2 linked regions of the Homo sapiens genome follow. The protein of the gene in region 2 binds, or shares a complex with, the protein of the main gene of each other region. Each region holds a gene or a part of one and is shown on either strand. Other genes may lie near its edges. A codon is read from its position in the direction of its gene.

Region 1 (8,814 bases), on a different chromosome or scaffold from region 2:
TCTGGCTGTGTGGTTTGGAGAAAGCACAGTTGGAGTAGCCGGTTGCTAAATAAGTAAGTGCTGAGAGGCTCCAGAGAAATTTTTTTTCTTTTCAACTTGGGAGATGCCCTTGATGTTGAAGAGGCTTTTTGAGAGCGGGCTAAAAAGGGGGAGCGGAGTAGTGCGGGGAGATGGAGAGTCCAGACTGACACTCGGGTCCCATTCCCTTCTGTTGCAGGTCCCGAGCGCGAGCGGAGACGATGCAGCGGAGACTGGTTCAGCAGTGGAGCGTCGCGGTGTTCCTGCTGAGCTACGCGGTGCCCTCCTGCGGGCGCTCGGTGGAGGGTCTCAGCCGCCGCCTGTAAGTGCCCCATCCTCCCCAGGGCGCCGGGTTGGGGAGGCCAGGGGGAGGGGCTGCCAAGCTGGGATGCTGCCGAGGGCTTGCAGCGGTCACCGATGCTCCTTGCCCGGGTTAGGGAGAGGGACCATCCCGGATACCTGCCGGGGCCTGAGCCCGGGTCCTCAAACCTGGCAGGAGAACTGGTTGATCTTCAACGGGAGACAGGCAAGAGAGAGACTTTATGTGTGTTTCCATAAGAGGGAGCGTTTCACAGAATCTCTTCTAGGGAAAGATCCTCTGCCTCTAGTGGAAAAGAAAAAAAGTTGGGGGGTGGTGGTTACTGTCAGGACCCGGGAAGCTTCTGAAACTCGGAGGAAGCTGAGCGGTCCTGGGGACGTATGGCCTGCGCGCTTGTATACATACTGAATGTGGGTGGCGGTTTGCGTGTGAAAAAGCAAAAGCCGTACATCTAATTTTATTATGAATGACATAATTTTAAGCATATAAAATAGGAACACATTACATAATAAAAGCGTATTATATAATAAAGTAGCAACAACTTTGCAGTGGCACGACTCCAATGTTAGTATTGATACAGTTCAGGAACGCTAGAGCGCTTGATTCCAAAATGAATTTTAGGTGTGGAACCTTTTTTTTCTTGGAGTTATTGCTAACAGTTCTTTAATCTGGAGTCAAATATTTGCATTGTAGACTGAAAACTTGTATTTTGGCATTCTCACTTGGTGATTCTTTTAATGATAACTTCAACTTTGAAATAATCATACATCCAAGCACACCAGAGAAATATCACTATGTCGTGTGACTGAAAACTTGGAAGAGTGATAGAGTAACATGATCTTAATAATCTGTTGGACCTAGCAGTTCACTAATGTGTATAACACCATAGTTGGGTGATCTTTAAACTGCAGACTCAGTGTTCAGAATGGGAAAACTATAAAGTTCGAGAACTGAGATGCGTTTGACTCTGGAGAAGGAATTAAGGCAAATTTTTACACTAACAATAAAAATAGCAGTATCTAATATTTACAGTCAGGTTTATGGTGCTTCCTTGTAAATTCCCGAGGGTGTACAAAAAGGCAACTGTTTTATACGTGCTTGTGGTCTATTATTATTAGAGGAGAAAATCCTTAAATGAAATTACTTTAGACATGTCGGAACCTTGGCATCAAAATGAAAATCTATTATGAATCTCCTAAGGCAAATTGTGTAGAACATTATACCGAAGATAAGGCTGCATTGTATTCTTCAGATCAACATTTTACCGATGTGTTTCTGAAAATTGTCTTCAGACTTTTTGCTCATTTTGAAACTTGTCTTAAATTCAATAATTTGAAATTCATACATAAATAGAAATGAAGACTGAATTTTTAAAAGCACACTTAAATACTATATTTATTTGGCTAAGAAATACTACCTTGGAACAGAGCCAATTTTTTCTTTAAAGTTGCTTAAGAAATACCTGTTTTCTCTTTTGAGAAACAGCAAATGATTCACGATTATATACACAACTATGGCATAAAAATACTGCTAAGTTGTCCTAAAGGCTATTTTTAACTCTTTCTTTGTTGCACCTTACAAAACACACATCAGAAACCATTTAGCAGCCAGCGACTGTTATAGTTTTGTTTGTGGGTGAAATATAATATTGTAGTTAAACACTCACACTCAGCAGATGGTTATAAAACTACCACAAAACATTCTCATAGTTAATGGGTAATAGATCATCACATTACAGGCATGGTTTTTCATGGAGGCTGAAATCATCAGTAGATGAAGATGTTTCATCAAATTATCATAGCCAAATGGAGTTTTTAAAAACAAGTCATTATTTTTGTCTTGCTGCCAAGTAACAGTAAATTTTGTGTGCTAGACAAAACATAAGTCTACCATTATGCTAAATCAAGCTAGTTTCTTGAAAGAAATTTTAACATATAATCAAACCATATTACTCCCCGGTTTTCACACCAAGTATTAGGGAAACTGCTTTAGAAGTATAGATTTTTTTTTTAACTAGATGCTAACTTTTAAGGGAGAGGAAATTACTATAACAATAAGACTTCCTAAACCATGCAAAGGAAGCAGTTACAAATTGTGAGTCTTTTTGACCTGTTAATCCCAAAGATTTTAATTAATGGAGCTAGAGCATGATCAAGTTGGATACTGGAAAGTGAGGCCTATGGATGTTCTTGTGCAGATGAACAAGGCTTCTGGCAGGTGGCTATCTCTATGTTTAAGTTAGAGAGGGAACTCCACAGATTCAGAAACCTAAAACGTCATTGGCTGATTTGCTTAGGAGCCAGACTGGGTCTATTCCATTTAATGAAAAGCATAACTTTCTACTGAGTCATTTGGGTTGGAAGGACCTTCTGGTGAGTCATCTTAACTCTAACACCCTAACCCTGTCTCTTGCATGTACCACAGAACTTTTCTTCTCAAACACAGAGTCCGTCCTTAGAAGCCTAGCATCAGTACAAGCATACTGCTTCTTCCTGTGCTGGAAAGGGAATTTCCATCACTGTTTTTATGCCCTCTGTTCCTTGATAGTTCCTTAGAAATCTAAGCTTCTTCCCTAAAAACTCCCTTGGAGTGATTTTTTTTTTAAAGGAGAAGAACTATGTTTGGGCTGAATTTAGGGTTATCTATGATAAGCATTTCCCCAAAATTTTGCAATTTTTTTTTACAATAATCAAAGGAGAACATGATACATAACCTACCTGTTTTTCCATTTTGGAGCTTAGGTATGTAAGTGTCATGTGAACCATAGTGCTATGTAATGTTTACAGACAAATTGAGTAAAAGACTATTATTGAGGCCATATTTACAACTTAAATATTTCAGAGTTATCTAAATTGAAAACGTCCTTAATTTGAATTTATTACTCACTACCTCTGTATACCTAGTTTATACTGATGCCATTATATTCCTGATCCTCTAATGCAACTGCCTAGTGAGAGATTCATTCTTCACAATACTTTAATTGCAGAAGTTTTTGAAATACTAAGTAAAGTGTCTAACAGCATTTCCAATTTAGCATTTAAGAAAACTTGTGTTTTCCAAGATACTAACAGTTTCCCCCAAAAGGCAGATGAAAAGCTTTGTCCCTCGTAAGCAATGTACTATTTTAAATTGAACAAAGCTGTGCCATATTGTAGGCTTTTTATAAATTAGAAGGATGGAATGATCACTGCATTTCCCAAGAGAACTATCCTGGGAAAATGCAGCTTGAGTTAGGAAGGCACTGTGACTCACAGTTGACAGGCTGGCCAAGATGACAAGCACATATGCCCATGAGAAGGGGCATATGAGCAATGGTGGCTTAATTAGAATAGACCAACCATTAAAAGTTTTGGCCTCAAGTTAAGCTAAAATGGGCTACACTTTATCCATTTGGAGAGCAATACAGAAGACGAGGGCTTCTGCCAGGAACAGAGAAAGAAATAAAAGCCCCCAATACTATAAATTATCAGTGGTTAAGAACTGCTTTTTAATGTGACATTTTGCTAAAAGATACTTATTAAACTGTAGTGCTTATGAAATATGCAATTATATCTGTCCTATTATTTTATAAATGTTATTAAAGGATATAAATACCTTGTACCAAAGCCTCAAACTTGTAGATTCTTAAAAGTTTCCAGAATACTAACTATTACCGCAGAGTAAGTGAATTTTAATCTAGTCACATGTGGCACCTTCTAAAAGAAAGAGAGACTCCTTCATGCCTCATTTAAACCAGGCTCCTGTTAAATTCCTTTCCATTAAGTCATGTCTTTTTTGAATGAGCTACATGGCTTCAAGTCAGTCCACACACTAAAATACTAGAAGGTAGCTGACATTCTAGCTAGAAGGGCCAGAGAAATGATGACTGTATTTTCATCTCTTACTCTTTTCTTTGACTCATTCATCCAGTGATAATCCAAACTCTTGTAGTTCCTAAATTTGATGATGAAAATGAACTTTCTGGGCAATAGGCTTGATCTTCAAGGAAACTGATAAATTTCTGTCCAATCTGCCTATTATTGTGGTGGCTTGTTACTCTATGCCCCATGCATATACCCTGTACTCTCCTTACCGTGTTGCCTCAACACAGGAACAGGCTGGGACTTCAGCTTCAGCTTCCGCTTAGGCAGGAGAAAGCGTTGAGGAAATTGAAAAAGCAGTCTTGGCTTTAGAATCAGAAGACCTAGTTTTTGGAGCCCTGGCTCTGCCAGTTCTCATTGTGTAGACTAGGGCAAGTCATTTAACCTCTCTGCACCTCACTTTCCCCATGAATACAATGGGGGCAGTAATAATGCTATTTATGATTGCCATATTTCTCTGAGGAGTTAAAGACATTGCACCAACAAAGGCAACAAAGGACCCAGACACCATTGTTTCAGGGAAGTAAGAGTACATGGGATGTAGCCCTGGGAAACACTTTGAGATGCTTTTGAGGATGGGCCAGTTTGGAGGACTATTCCAATGGTAGAAATTGGAGTTAATGCAGAGTTGAAGCAGGCATGATATGACTGATTAACAGATGCAGTCCGTAAATATGGTTAATAATATACACAAAATAATAAAAGAATACACAATGGACATTTAAGCAAGAGTTTGGGTGTTATCTAAAAGGATTGATAGAGAATTAGTTTATTCTTTCTCACGATATTTTCATTAGAGTGTCATTTAAATAGAAAAATCCTTTATATTTTTTCCTAGAGAATTTTAAGACAAAGAGAGCAAGTAGAAAAGTGAACTTCTCAACTAAGTAGTAAGGATCATACTCTCTGAAGTTCTAAATTTAAAAAAAAAACATGAAGCACAGAAGAAATAGAATGAGCTCATTTAAGCACACAAAGAAACCCATTTTAAGGAGACCACCCACTACTTTACAGAAAAATACACATACTCTCCCTCTCTTTCTCTCTCTCTCTCTCTCTCTCTCTGACGATTGGCCTTCAAATGTATGTTCTTGGTAGCCAGTAGTCTAAAATGTTAAAGTTCAGTCTGTGAATCAGATGGTTTCCTAGACAGGCTACACTGCTCACTTCTCCTTCAGCCTTTGTTTGTTTTTACTCTTACGGCTTGCTGTTTCAATATTATTATTTTCTTAATGGGGCGTGTGTGTGTGTGTGTGAGAGAGAGAGAGGAGAGAGAGAGAGAGAGAGAGAGAGAGAGAGAGAATACTCAGGTAAAAGCAGCTGCCTTTTATTTCCCAGGCTGGGACTTCTAGATTTATTTTCTCAGCAGAACTCTGAAAAATGTGAAGAGATACTCCGTGGTTTCTGTCTATTTCTGATCATAACTGAATCATATGTTTTAAACCGGGAAGGAAGTATAGAAATCACTGTCTCTGACCCCTTCCTTTTATACAGTTGAAGCCCATGAGGCCCAAGAATGTTCATGTTCCCACCAAGGTCACAACCTAGTGAGTGGTAGAACTGGGACCATGAGCTGGAGCCTTCCAACTGCCAGCTCTTTCCTTCCCACTGGTTACCCTTCCCTGCGCAATGAGCTTGCTACCCATCCAGCTTGTGTCTTACGGTGGACCAACTAGAAAACTAAAGAGATTTACTCATGTCTTTGTTGTCTCTATCAGCAACTAAAATTTAACTGTTTTCTTCCCCTCTAATATTTTCTTTCAAAGCAAAAGAGCTGTGTCTGAACATCAGCTCCTCCATGACAAGGGGAAGTCCATCCAAGATTTACGGCGACGATTCTTCCTTCACCATCTGATCGCAGAAATCCACACAGCTGAAATCAGAGCTACCTCGGAGGTGTCCCCTAACTCCAAGCCCTCTCCCAACACAAAGAACCACCCCGTCCGATTTGGGTCTGATGATGAGGGCAGATACCTAACTCAGGAAACTAACAAGGTGGAGACGTACAAAGAGCAGCCGCTCAAGACACCTGGGAAGAAAAAGAAAGGCAAGCCCGGGAAACGCAAGGAGCAGGAAAAGAAAAAACGGCGAACTCGCTCTGCCTGGTTAGACTCTGGAGTGACTGGGAGTGGGCTAGAAGGGGACCACCTGTCTGACACCTCCACAACGTCGCTGGAGCTCGATTCACGGTAACAGGCTTCTCTGGCCCGTAGCCTCAGCGGGGTGCTCTCAGCTGGGTTTTGGAGCCTCCCTTCTGCCTTGGCTTGGACAAACCTAGAATTTTCTCCCTTTATGTATCTCTATCGATTGTGTAGCAATTGACAGAGAATAACTCAGAATATTGTCTGCCTTAAAGCAGTACCCCCCTACCACACACACCCCTGTCCTCCAGCACCATAGAGAGGCGCTAGAGCCCATTCCTCTTTCTCCACCGTCACCCAACATCAATCCTTTACCACTCTACCAAATAATTTCATATTCAAGCTTCAGAAGCTAGTGACCATCTTCATAATTTGCTGGAGAAGTGTGTTTCTTCCCCTTACTCTCACACCTGGGCAAACTTTCTTCAGTGTTTTTCATTTCTTACGTTCTTTCACTTCAAGGGAGAATATAGAAGCATTTGATATTATCTACAAACACTGCAGAACAGCATCATGTCATAAACGATTCTGAGCCATTCACACTTTTTATTTAATTAAATGTATTTAATTAAATCTCAAATTTATTTTAATGTAAAGAACTTAAATTATGTTTTAAACACATGCCTTAAATTTGTTTAATTAAATTTAACTCTGGTTTCTACCAGCTCATACAAAATAAATGGTTTCTGAAAATGTTTAAGTATTAACTTACAAGGATATAGGTTTTTCTCATGTATCTTTTTGTTCATTGGCAAGATGAAATAATTTTTCTAGGGTAATGCCGTAGGAAAAATAAAACTTCACATTTATGTGGCTTGTTTATCCTTAGCTCACAGATTGAGGTAATAATGACACTCCTAGACTTTGGGATCAAATAACTTAGGGCCAAGTCTTGGGTCTGAATTTATTTAAGTTCACAACCTAGGGCAAGTTACTCTGCCTTTCTAAGACTCACTTACATCTTCTGTGAAATATAATTGTACCAACCTCATAGAGTTTGGTGTCAACTAAATGAGATTATATGTGGACTAAATATCTGTCATATAGTAAACACTCAATAAATTGCAACATATTATTTTGGTGTTTTTGGAACTAGTTCTGATTGTACCATCTACCTATCTATAATCTATTTCTATCTATCTATCTATCTATCTATCTATCTAGGGGGGTATGTTTCTATGAGGCAAAAAGTGGGGCAAATATTAATCCCATTTTATAAAATAGAAAGCCAAGGCATTCCACGGCTAAAAGACCTGAGTAGTCCTTGGAATTGAAATAGGTGGCCCCAAAGCTGGATTTATCTCCCTGTTTTCTGACACGTAGACAGTGCTATGTTTGCCCTGCTTCTTTATCGATGCATTTCCATTGAAATGATTTTTTTTTCTTTTCACTTTTCAGTACAGCACTTCTGTGGGGTTTGAAAAAAAAAAAGGAAAACAACAGAAGAACACATCATATGCAACTAATGATCTCATTATTTAAGAGTCCCCTGTTACTTCTTTAGTCATTTCCTTTGACTCTGCTACAGATAGGATTATAGGATGATGCTTCAAAGGGGACCTTGAACCTATTCACCATTATTTGTCTCTTTAAGCTGGCAAACCCATCATTAAATAGCACATAAAATAGCAATCATATGGGATAAGTAGTACAGCTTCAGTAATCAATGGGCAGTGGCACTAGAAAAATCTTGAGCACAGTGAATGACCTATCCTGCAAACATCTAATGGATCTCTAAAGGGTAACAAACCCTATAAATTCTGGCTTACTGCACATATTTAGTGTGTTTTAAGATAGGATCCTAACTGTATATATTTATAACTAATGTAAGGACCCTACTTTATTGCCAAAACCTATTTTTATCCATTGTCTCATATATATAAACATGTCATATATATAAACATATATATATAAACATATATGTATATAGTAAACATTCAATAAATTGCAACATATTATTTTGGTGTTTTTAGACCTAGTTCTGATTGTATCCTCTACCTATCATCTATCTATTTATATCTATCTATCTATCTAGGGGGATATGTTTCTATGAGGCAAAAAGTATATATATACGTATATATATATATATATATACGTATATATATATACGTATATATATGAGTTATAAAAAGAGGTATAAATAACTTTTGATGGATTTTATTTATTTCAAATTTGCAATGTTCTTTAAGTATCTGGAGAATTGATGAAAATTAACACTCGTCAATTCTTACGCCTGGAACTACCCCTAAGTTAAAGTAGGTCTAGTGAAAATTAGACAGTGGCCTAATCAAATCCAGACCTAGGGCTGAAAGAAATAGGAGGTTTCTGCTTTTCCTTTCTCTTCCCTGTTTGTGAGGGACATTCATGGAAAGAACTGTTTGGCAGCCAAATGTTGGCACTCTCCCAACACAATCCAACAGAGGTTCAGGGAAGAGTGAGGAAGCTTAGGAGTGTATTGATGAGAATGTATGGGGCC
Region 2 (9,423 bases):
GATTGCTTTCTGAAGACTCCATATTACTTGAGGTGATTTAGAAACTACGGATGTCCACCTCCTGAGTACTAAAAGTTTTCTGTTTAAACTAGAGGTAACCTTAATAGTAATATTCAATTATCAGAAAAGAGAAACTAGCTCCCAATTGTGCCCCAATATCCAGATTTCAAAAAAGATCACCAACAGTGAAACTTAGTATTAGTTATCGTTGTGCTATGAAAGGGAAAAAGGCCAAGGTACTGTTAGCTTTTTTCTCATGCCCGAGGGCTTAACCATGCCTATACAAATTATCTAATTTTTTTTTTTTTTTTTTTTTTAAGAAATGGAGTGTCACTCTGTCACCCAGGCTGGAGTGCAATGCGCAATCTTGGCTCACCACAATCTCCGCCTCCCAGGTTCAAGCAATTCTCCTGCCTAAGCCTCCAGAGTAGCTGAGACTACAGGTATCCACCGCCACAGCCAGCTAATTTTTGTATTTTTAGTAGAGACAGGGTTTCGCCATGTTGGCCAGGCTGGTCTCGAACTCCTGACCTCAGGTGATCCACCCACCTCGGCCTCTCAAAGTGCTGGGATGACAGGCATGAGCCACTGCGCCCAGCCATTATTGTCTAATTTTTTTTTAAAGGGTTGGTGTTAAGAGTGATGTGCCAAAAAATAAGCCAATTACAATTCCAATTACATCTTATCCCATTTACTAGTGTGTAAATTAAGGAAGATGAGAAACTGAATGGGCACTATCAGTATCGAGATTTCCAGTGATAGAATATACTTCCATTTATGTCACTTAGCTGAGGGAGAAGGAATTAAAATGTTGTTATTACACAAGCAGAACCAACATGAATAGAAACAGCTCTACATGCTCCAAAACGATTTGAAACCAAGTTGGATTTAATAACCCGGCTCCTTATCATGGGTATGCAAGATTGGTGACAGAAGGAGGTACACAACCAGATACAGAAGTTACTGCCTTACAGGGCACTACTTTACCTAATGCTGATATCTAGAACCAGGAAATAGCAAGTATGATGTGCATAACCATGTCCTGCACAAGTACATATGTAGGAATTCCCCACTAGTTTCCACTCAAATACCAAGGACAAAATGATGACTGCACAGATATTTAACTCACTCCTCTTTGTGCCTTACCCATGTAAGACAGATCACTAAAGAACTTAATTTAAAAACAACAACAGCCAGGCGAGGTGGCTCACTCCTGTAATCCCAGCACTTTGGGAAGCCAAGGCAGGCAGATCACCTGAGGTCAGGAGTTCAAGACCAGCCTGGCCAACATGGTGAAACCCCGTCTCTACTTCAAGTACAAAAATTAGCTGGGCATGGTGGTGGGTGCCTGTAATCCCAGCTACTTGGGAGGCGGAGGCTGCAGTGAGCCGAGATCATGCCATTGCACTCCAGCCTGGGCAACAGAGCAAGACTGTCTCCAAAAAAAAAAAAAAAAAAAAATTCCCTGAGCTGTACTCCAGAAGTACCGAATCGGAATTTCTGGAGAGCTTGGAAATACCTATTAACAAATTCCCTAATTTTTATACAAATGTAGCACCAATTTGTACACTACTCCCATTTGCCAAACAGATTTTACCAATTATGGCACGTAATTAAAGTTTCCCAAACTGCTGCAGCCTACCTCAGTCATCTAAAAAGAATTCCAATCCATCAATGGGAATGGACAAGCTGTGTTGAGAAAGATTTAAGACAAAGACAATTTTTATCTTTAGGTAAAGTTGAGGTCCCAGAAACCTATCACACTGTTAGCTCTATCCCATGCAAATAGCAAAAGATCTGAGAAAGCGATTTCTTGTTCTCTGGGCAATATAACCAAACAGATAAGCGTTACTCACATAGTTCTTGACTTCTCGTCGAGCATTAGCATCAATAGCAAGCCACCTCTGCTGATATTGTGCCTTGATATCTGGATCTTTAGATGTCAAAGAGTTCTTGATTTGTAGACCAGCTGCAACTCTGGCAACCTGACTGTTTCCTGGATTTGCCAGCACTCTGGACAGTTCCACAAGGAAAGTGGGCTGTTAAGGGAAGATAAATTTGTAAATAAAAATATCTTAGGAATTTCCACAACTGAGGATAATTTATAGAGCACTGAACCACCAGAGGGGCGGCGAGGGGGGGAACTAATGTCTAATTTTTTTTTGATATAAGCATTTCAGGAAACCACAAAATATTTACTTCACTGACTTCTATAAAAATGTTACTTAGTGTAACAGGAAGTCTTCCACTTTTCTCGTGGAGCCTAGCACTTAATGAGGAATTACAGATTTCCCTATCAAGATCATTCTTAGTGCCCAAATTGTCATGTTAGACCCCCGAATTGCAAGGTTTCAGAGTATGGTAGTAGTAGTCAGTCTTCTATGTATACTGAGGTGTCCCAAGAACTTTTAATAATGTCTGGTACTCAATGTTTGTTAAATGAATGGCTGTTATGATGGGGGGTAGAAAATAAAACTGTTTATCTAAATTTCAAAAACCTTGGTCCCAAAAGAATGATCCAACTTTCCATCTCATGGCAGCAGCAGGGTAGCTTTTCAATCCATGGAAGGAGGTGATCTTTTATGAGAGGGGGAAATACAGATAAGCCTAAAACAAACTTAGGAGCCTCATCCTCCGTTTTATTTGTGGGCACTCAGCAAAAAGGGAACAATGAAAAAAGCAGATTTATAAGGAAAAGTGATAAGATATTTAGAAATAGGGAAAAAGTGAAAGAAAAAATCTTCAGGCAAGCTGTTCAAGCAAAATAACTTTGTATCTAATGATCAACAATTACTTGCTCCTTTACATTTGGACTTTAGTTGAGGAATACAGTGGATCCCTGAAAAGCATGTTCTTTTGTAACCTTTTGTAATCCACAGGCCTCAAAAACTACTCCCTTTGTTTAAAAATTTAGCACACACACACCTCTCCACCAAAAACCGTGCCCAAACAGCAAAGTTAGCAGGAAAAGTCAAAAGCAGACACATTTTTCTTACTGCTAACAAGCTCTGCAATCACAGCAGAAGATAATTCTTAAAAGTTTTATTAATTATGTACCACTAAAGAATGTTAAGAATGTTAGGAATAAGATAAAAAGCTTTTTGCAAAATTTGCAAAAGCAGAAACAGGAATAATACCCTAAATGGAATTATCAGCCTATACTAGTGGAAAAATCTCTTCTAGGAAAGGATAAACAGGTTAGTTGTAAAAATTGGCACATATGAAAAACAACAAAAAAATCATTCAAAGGCAGTCTGTATAAAATAAGCCTTGTCACTTTGTTGATGTTGACATTTTGCCTATATAACACAAAGGAACACATATGGTTAGTGTTACTCAGACTTAATTCCTATTACCTTTCTCAAAGATGTCAAGCATCATCCAATCCTTCCCTCTGACCCCATCCCCCAACAGGAGATGGACACCAAAGAGAAACTTAACTGGCATCTAGGCTGTTTCAACCAATCCATCCCACATTTTTATACAAAGGACCAGTCTCTAGCGGACTTAGCTTCATTTTCTCCGGACCCCTTAAATTTTAAAATATGAAAAACGAGGAACTTTCCCCTGTGATTTCATCAGCAAACAGGCCCCATCTCAAAGATGAGCCTCAGTCTGTTTTCTGGGTGCAGATCCCTAGTGATTAGGTCTCTATTCATCCAGGTCAGAAGAAAAAAAAAAAAGAAAGAAAGAAAAAGAAAAAACCCCAAGAGAGGAATAACCGAGCAAAGAGGGAAAAATATCAGTGGAAATGGGTTAAGAGGCAGTCGGGTGCCAGGCCTGGCCATGAGTACAGACCAAGGTAGCTAGGAAAGGGCAGAGCTCTAGGAAATAGGTGGGGAGAGCCACAGGGGCCACGGGATAGGAAGGAGAAGCCGGCCGGGGTCAGACAGGGCGGGCGGCCGGGCCCGGAGCTTCCACATGGCCCCTAGGCCCGACTCCCCCGCCCCCACCCCTGCTGAACACGCAGCGCCGCGCAACCTAACTTCCCTTCCCTCCCTCTTTCTCCCTCCCGCTGCACCGCCGCCCTCAGGCCGCGCAACGATTGGGCGGCAGGCAGCTCGGCGCGCCAAGCCATTGGCCAGTCGCGAGGCCCGGGGCGGGACACACCCACCGGCTTCCCGATGGCGGGGTTAGGTTGGACCGGGTTGGGGGGGGAGGGGGAGGGGGGAGGGGGACGGGATGGGGCGGGGTAGGTTCCCGAGGCCTGGGCCTCCGGGAGGGCGGGAAGGCCCCGCACGCAGGGGATGGGGACGCGGCGGGATGGGCGCGGCGGGGTAGCACGCACCAGGTTCTCCACGGCCGCACGCTCCAGGAACTTCTGCGCCGCTTCCAGCTCCAGCCGATCTAGGGGGAGGAAAGTGGGAGACGGAGCGGGGTCAGAGGGGCCGGGCCTCCCCTCCCCCACCCCAATCACCTCAGCCCTACCCCCGGCTCCTGCGTCCTACCGGGAGACACGGTCTTCTCGAGAATGGTGATCAGCTCCATGGCGGAGGTGGCGGCGGCGGCGACTCCTCCTAAGACGACGGCCCGGCCTTTCGGGCGGCGGCTCGAACTGGGGATGGGGGTTGGGGGTCGGGTGGGAAGGGAGGGTGGGGTGGGGGGCGGGGGTCACCACAAACCCATTCACCGGCTCTGTCTGGGTAGTCGGTCCGGCTCCCCTTCCTCTCCTCTTCCCTTACTTCCTCCCTCCAAATGGGCTGCTGGCGGCGGGGGAGGGACCCTGGGGGCAGCTCAGAGCGCGCTGGTGCTCGGGAGGCGGAGGGAGAAAGAAGGAAGGGAGGCTGTGAGTGAGAGGCGGCGCGCAGGGAGGGAGCGAGGGAGGGAGGAAGGCGGAGGGATATTCGGACCGGACCTCTCCGCGGAGGCGCCGCGCTCCACGACGATTGGCCGTTGTCCTGGCCACGCGGAATCCCTAACTGGCCAGGCGCTCAGCGTCGAAGGGCCGTCTCGCGCCCATTCGCCTGCTGGTTTCAAGGCCCGGGTTGGCTGGGCGGGCAGCGGAATGGAGCGCGCGGATTGGCCGAGGGGAGGGAGATTGGGATGGGGTAGGAGAGAGCCCGCCGTTGATTGGGTGGGCTTGGTAAAGGCCTTGAGCTCAGACCGGCTGAGCGCTGGGAGGAGGGTGGACCGGAGGCACGACTCGGATCCTGCGCGATTGGCTGGGATAGTAGGCGTTGATAGGATAGGGTGCCCGGGAGAACTAAGGAGAGGAGTTCGGGGTCGGGGCGCGGGAAGGCGGGAGGTGCCCGGCAACCCTAGGAGCCCGGCGCGGGGCACGATGGGACGCCCCCGGGAAGAGGCGGAGCTGGGTTCGAGCGCTGGGGCTGCGGTTGGGTAAGCGCCGTCGCTCCGAGGGGCGTGTTGCGCGAGGTTTTCGCGGGCCTGAGCGGGGGAGGGGGGACTGTTGAAGTCCTGCGCCGCGCCCACAGGAAGCTGCTTTAATGGCTAGGTCGGCTTGGTACCCTGCTTTCGGCTGGGAGGGATCCGTAAGGCCATGTGGCTCCACTGCCAATGTGTAGATGTGGAAACTGAAGCCCAGAGAGGGTATGGAACTTGTCCAAGGTCACACAGCTGGTTAATGGCTTGGTAAGGAATGGGTTCAGGAGCCCAGAGAGGGTCTGGAACTTGTCCAAGGTCACACAGCTGGTTAGTGGCTTGATAAGCTCAAGCTCTCCTGACGGCCCTTGTCCCTACAAGCAGCTTCCTCTCCAAGGAGTCCCCTAAGCCTGCTTATATGGGGCTTGAGACCTGTGCTGTGATAAATCTGACTTGCTTAGGGGTGAGCTAAGGGATTCCTCCTCTTAGACCCCCCATCCATAGCTACCAGGTACTTGACAGGATGGAAATGTTTCACCCTCCAAAAGTACCCTGTAAAGGCCCAACCTCGAACCAGAAAGAATGTGTGTACAGGAATAAAGGATTGTGGTTCTTAACCTGTTTCAGTTCTCAACCCCGGAAGAAACTCATGAATGCCTTTTCTTAGCAAAATGCATATAAAGAAAACGTGGGCCGGGCGCTGTGGCTCGCGCCTGTAATCCCAGCACTTTGGGAGGCCGAGGGGGGCGGATGACGAGTCAAGAGATCGAGACCATCCTGGCCAACATGGTGAAACCCCGTCTCTACTAAAATATAAAAAATTAGCCCGGTGTGGTGGCGCGTACCTGAAGTCCAAGCTATTCCTGAGGCTGAGGCAGGAGAATCGCTTGAACCCTGGACGCAGAGGTTGCAGTGAGCCGATATCGCGCCACTGCAGTCCAGCCTGGCGACAGAGCGAGACTCCATCTCAAAGAAAAGAAAAAAAATGTGCATACAGTATGTGGCTCAGGCCTGCAATCCCAGGACTTTGGGAGGATCGCTTGAGCCCAGGGGTTCAAGACTAACCTGGACAACTTAGCGAGATCCTGTCTCTTTTAAAAAAAATGAAGATTTTTAAAATGATAAAGGAAAAGTGTAATAATAGGGCCGGGCGCGGTGGCTCATGCCTGTAATCCCAGCACTTTGGGAGGCCGAGGCGGGCGGATCACTTGAGGTCAGGAGTTCAAGACCAGTCTGGCCAACATGGTGAAACCCTGTCTCTACTAAAAATACAAAAAAAAAAAAAAAACCTAGCCGAGCGTGGTGGCGCACGCCTATAATCTCAGCTCCTCAGGAGGCTGAGACAGAATCTCTTGAACCCGGGAGGCAGAGGTTGCAGTGAGCCAAGACTTCACCACTGCACTTCAGCCTGGGCGACAGTTAAGACTCTCAAAAAAAGAAAAAATAAATGGTAACAAAGAATTTCTTGAATTGTTTCATTTTCACAGTAATGATGTAGGGGTAATTGGATGTAGCTGGTTCATAGAGCTTTTTACCATATGACTTGAGCTTGTGAGGTAATTGCCCTGCAGTAGCCACACTGGGAAAACCTAGGAGGAAGTCTGACTTTGTTGAAAGGTTTCACAAAGAATTAGGAAAGATTGGCCAACTCTTTGTTAAAAGAGGAAGAAATGGTCTTTCTCTGCTAGAGATATCTTTGCAGTTTTGAAGCTAGAAATGTAGGGACACCATTCCTCACACCATACTGTGACTAGTGGATTTCCCATGGCTTAGCAGCTAACCCCAGCCTTTTGCTTCATCTATTAACTGTGGAAGAACTGCCCTGTGTGTGTAACTTTGTTATAAATCAGTGAAGATTGGGCCAGGGCGTGGTGGGTCACGCCTTTAATCCCAGCACTTTGGGAGGCTGAGGTGGGCAGATCAACTGAGGTCCGGAGTTAGAGACCAGCTTGGCCAACACAGTGAAACCCTGTCTCTACTGAAATACAAAATTAGCCGGGCGTGGTGGTGGGCACCTGCAATCAATCCCAGCTACTCAGTAGGCTGAGGCAGGAGAATTGCCTGAACCCGTGAGGCAGAGGTGGTAGTGAGCTAAGATTGCACCACCGCACTCCAGCCTGGGTGACAGAGCAAGACTCCATCTCAAAAAAAACCCACTGTACTCCAGCCTGGATGACAGCAAGACTCCATCTCAAAACAAAACAAAACAAAACAACACTGCATTCAGCCTGGGTGCCAGAGCAAGACTCCATTTCAAAAAAAAAGAAATCAATGAAGATTGGCCATGCGTGGTGGCTCACGCCTGTCATTGCAGTACTTTGGGAGGCTGAGGCTGGAGGATCTCTTGAGCCCAGGAGTTTGAGGCCAGCCTGACCAACATGGTGAAACCCTGTCTGTACTAAAAATACAAAAATTAGCCGGGTGTGGTGGTGGGAGCCTGTAATCCTAGCTACTTGGGAGGCTGAGGCAGGAGAATCACTTGAACCCAGAAGTCAGAGGTTGCAGTGAGCCGAGATTGCGCCACTGCACTCCAGCCTGGGCGACAGTGAGACTGTGTCCCCCCACCGCCGCTAAAAAGTCAATGAAGATTAAGTGAGATGACATCTGTGAAAATCCTGGAATTGTCCTTACCTGAGTTACCTACACTACAAATTATCCATAATTTGTTTCACTCAAGCTAACTTTCCCCTGCTCTCCAGCAGTTTGCTGGGCTACCTCTGTCTCAACATCAGTCATGATGATACCAGTGAGGGCAAATGGATTTTTAAAGCAACTGAAATAAGAGCAAAACCCTGTCTCTATACAATTTTCTTTCTTTCTTTCTTTCTTTTTTTGATACAGAGTCTCGCTTTCACCCGGGCTGGAGGGCGGTGGTGCCATCTCAGCTCACTGCAACCTCCGCCTCCCGGGTTCAAGCAATTCTCCTTTGCTCTTAGGATATAGACAAAACCACTTGCATGGCAGGCAAGGTCTTGTATGATCTTGCCTCCGCTCAGCACTAGCTCGACTCAATCCCTTGTTCTCAATCCCTTGTTTTCCCAAGTAGCTGGGATTACAGGTACCCACCACCACGCCCAGCTAATTTTTTTTATATTTCAGATGGGGTTTCACCATGTTGGCCAGGCTGGTTTCAAACTCCTGACCACAAGTTATCCGCCCACCTCGGCCTCCCAAAGTGCTGGGATTACAGGCGTGAGCCACCACGCCCAACCCATACAATTTTGAAAAAGCCGGGCATGGTGGCATGTACTTCAGGAGGGTGAGGCAGGAGGATTACTTGAGGCCAGGAGTTTAAGGCTGCAGTGACCTATGATCCTGCACTCCAGCCTGGGTGACAGCTAGACCCTGTGGCTGAAGTAAAATGCTGGGAAAATAAAAGTTTTACAGCAAAGTTCCAATCAAACATAAAATCCTTACCAAAATCAAAATGAACTGACTTTAGTTGAACTAAAGTTACTGATGGTGCTGTTTAGTTCTTATCAAAAGTACTCACATTCAATAAATGCTGGTGAGGTACCGGAGCTTGAGTGATGAGCACAGACTCCAGAAATTGGGTGCCTGAGTTCCTATCCCAGCTCTACCACTTCTTAGTTTGTGAGTTAACTTTCCTCAATGTAAAATGAGACTATTAATTGTCCTTACTATGTAGGGACAAATAGGGAGGTCCTAAGTGAGTTAAGACATGGTGAATGGGCTGAGTGCAGTGGCTCATGCCTATAATCACAGCACTTTGGGAGGCCAAGGCTGGAGGATCACTTGAGCCCAGGAGTTTGAGGCCAGCCTGGCCAACATGGTGAAACCCTGTCTGTACTTAATACAAAAATTAGCCAGGCGTAGTGGCAGGAGCCTTTAATCCCAGCTACTCGGGAGGCTGAGGCAGGAGAATCACTTGAACCCAGGAGGTGGAGGTTGCAGTGAGCCGAGATCACGCCGTTGCACTCCAGCCTGGGTAACGCAGCGAGACCCTGTCTCAAAAAAGAAAAGAAAAATATGGCAGCTTTAATTTTAATTTAAAAAAATAAATAAAAGACATGGTGAATGCCAGTCTAGCATGTTATGTATGCATTGGCTGTTATCTCCTTACCATGTATTTTGTGCTAAGTG

The links.
Region 1: the proteins of KPNB1 (region 2) and PTHLH are in contact, whole or in part, in a crystal structure (PDB 1M5N), measured with the Homo sapiens proteins. Residues at the interface, in NP_002256.2 of Homo sapiens: Val55 (codon at 1,976), Tyr104, Pro106, Gln111, Glu152, Tyr156, Gln159, Asn196, Leu199, Asn200, Gln239, Glu274, Gln278, Glu281, Asp288, Ile295, Ser298, Glu299, Asp339, Asp340, Trp342, Val350, Met353, Glu395, Trp430, Arg434, Glu437, Asn469, Trp472; in NP_945316.1 of Homo sapiens: Tyr103 (codon at 6,169), Thr105 (codon at 6,175), Gln106 (codon at 6,178), Glu107 (codon at 6,181), Thr108 (codon at 6,184), Asn109 (codon at 6,187), Lys110 (codon at 6,190), Val111 (codon at 6,193), Glu112 (codon at 6,196), Thr113 (codon at 6,199), Tyr114 (codon at 6,202), Lys120 (codon at 6,220), Thr121 (codon at 6,223), Pro122 (codon at 6,226), Gly123 (codon at 6,229), Lys124 (codon at 6,232), Lys125 (codon at 6,235), Lys126 (codon at 6,238), Lys127 (codon at 6,241), Lys129 (codon at 6,247).

Annotation. Positions count from the first base shown.
Region 1 is NC_000012.12:27,960,920-27,969,733, reverse strand, and holds part of PTHLH (parathyroid hormone-related protein isoform 1 preproprotein), read left to right. Parts: exon of another isoform or gene 1-53; intron 54-217; 5' UTR 218-239; coding exon 240-340; intron 341-5,963; coding exon 5,964-6,386; coding exon of another isoform or gene 6,387-6,390; exon of another isoform or gene 6,391-7,413; intron 7,414-8,814. UniProt on the Homo sapiens protein: Neuroendocrine peptide which is a critical regulator of cellular and organ growth, development, migration, differentiation and survival and of epithelial calcium ion transport.
Region 2 is NC_000017.11:47,645,310-47,654,732, reverse strand, and holds the start of KPNB1 (importin subunit beta-1), read right to left. Parts: upstream 4,815-9,423; 5' UTR 4,489-4,814; coding exon 4,449-4,488; intron 4,348-4,448; coding exon 4,289-4,347; intron 3,669-4,288; exon of another isoform or gene 3,357-3,668; intron 2,040-3,356; coding exon 1,857-2,039; intron 1-1,856.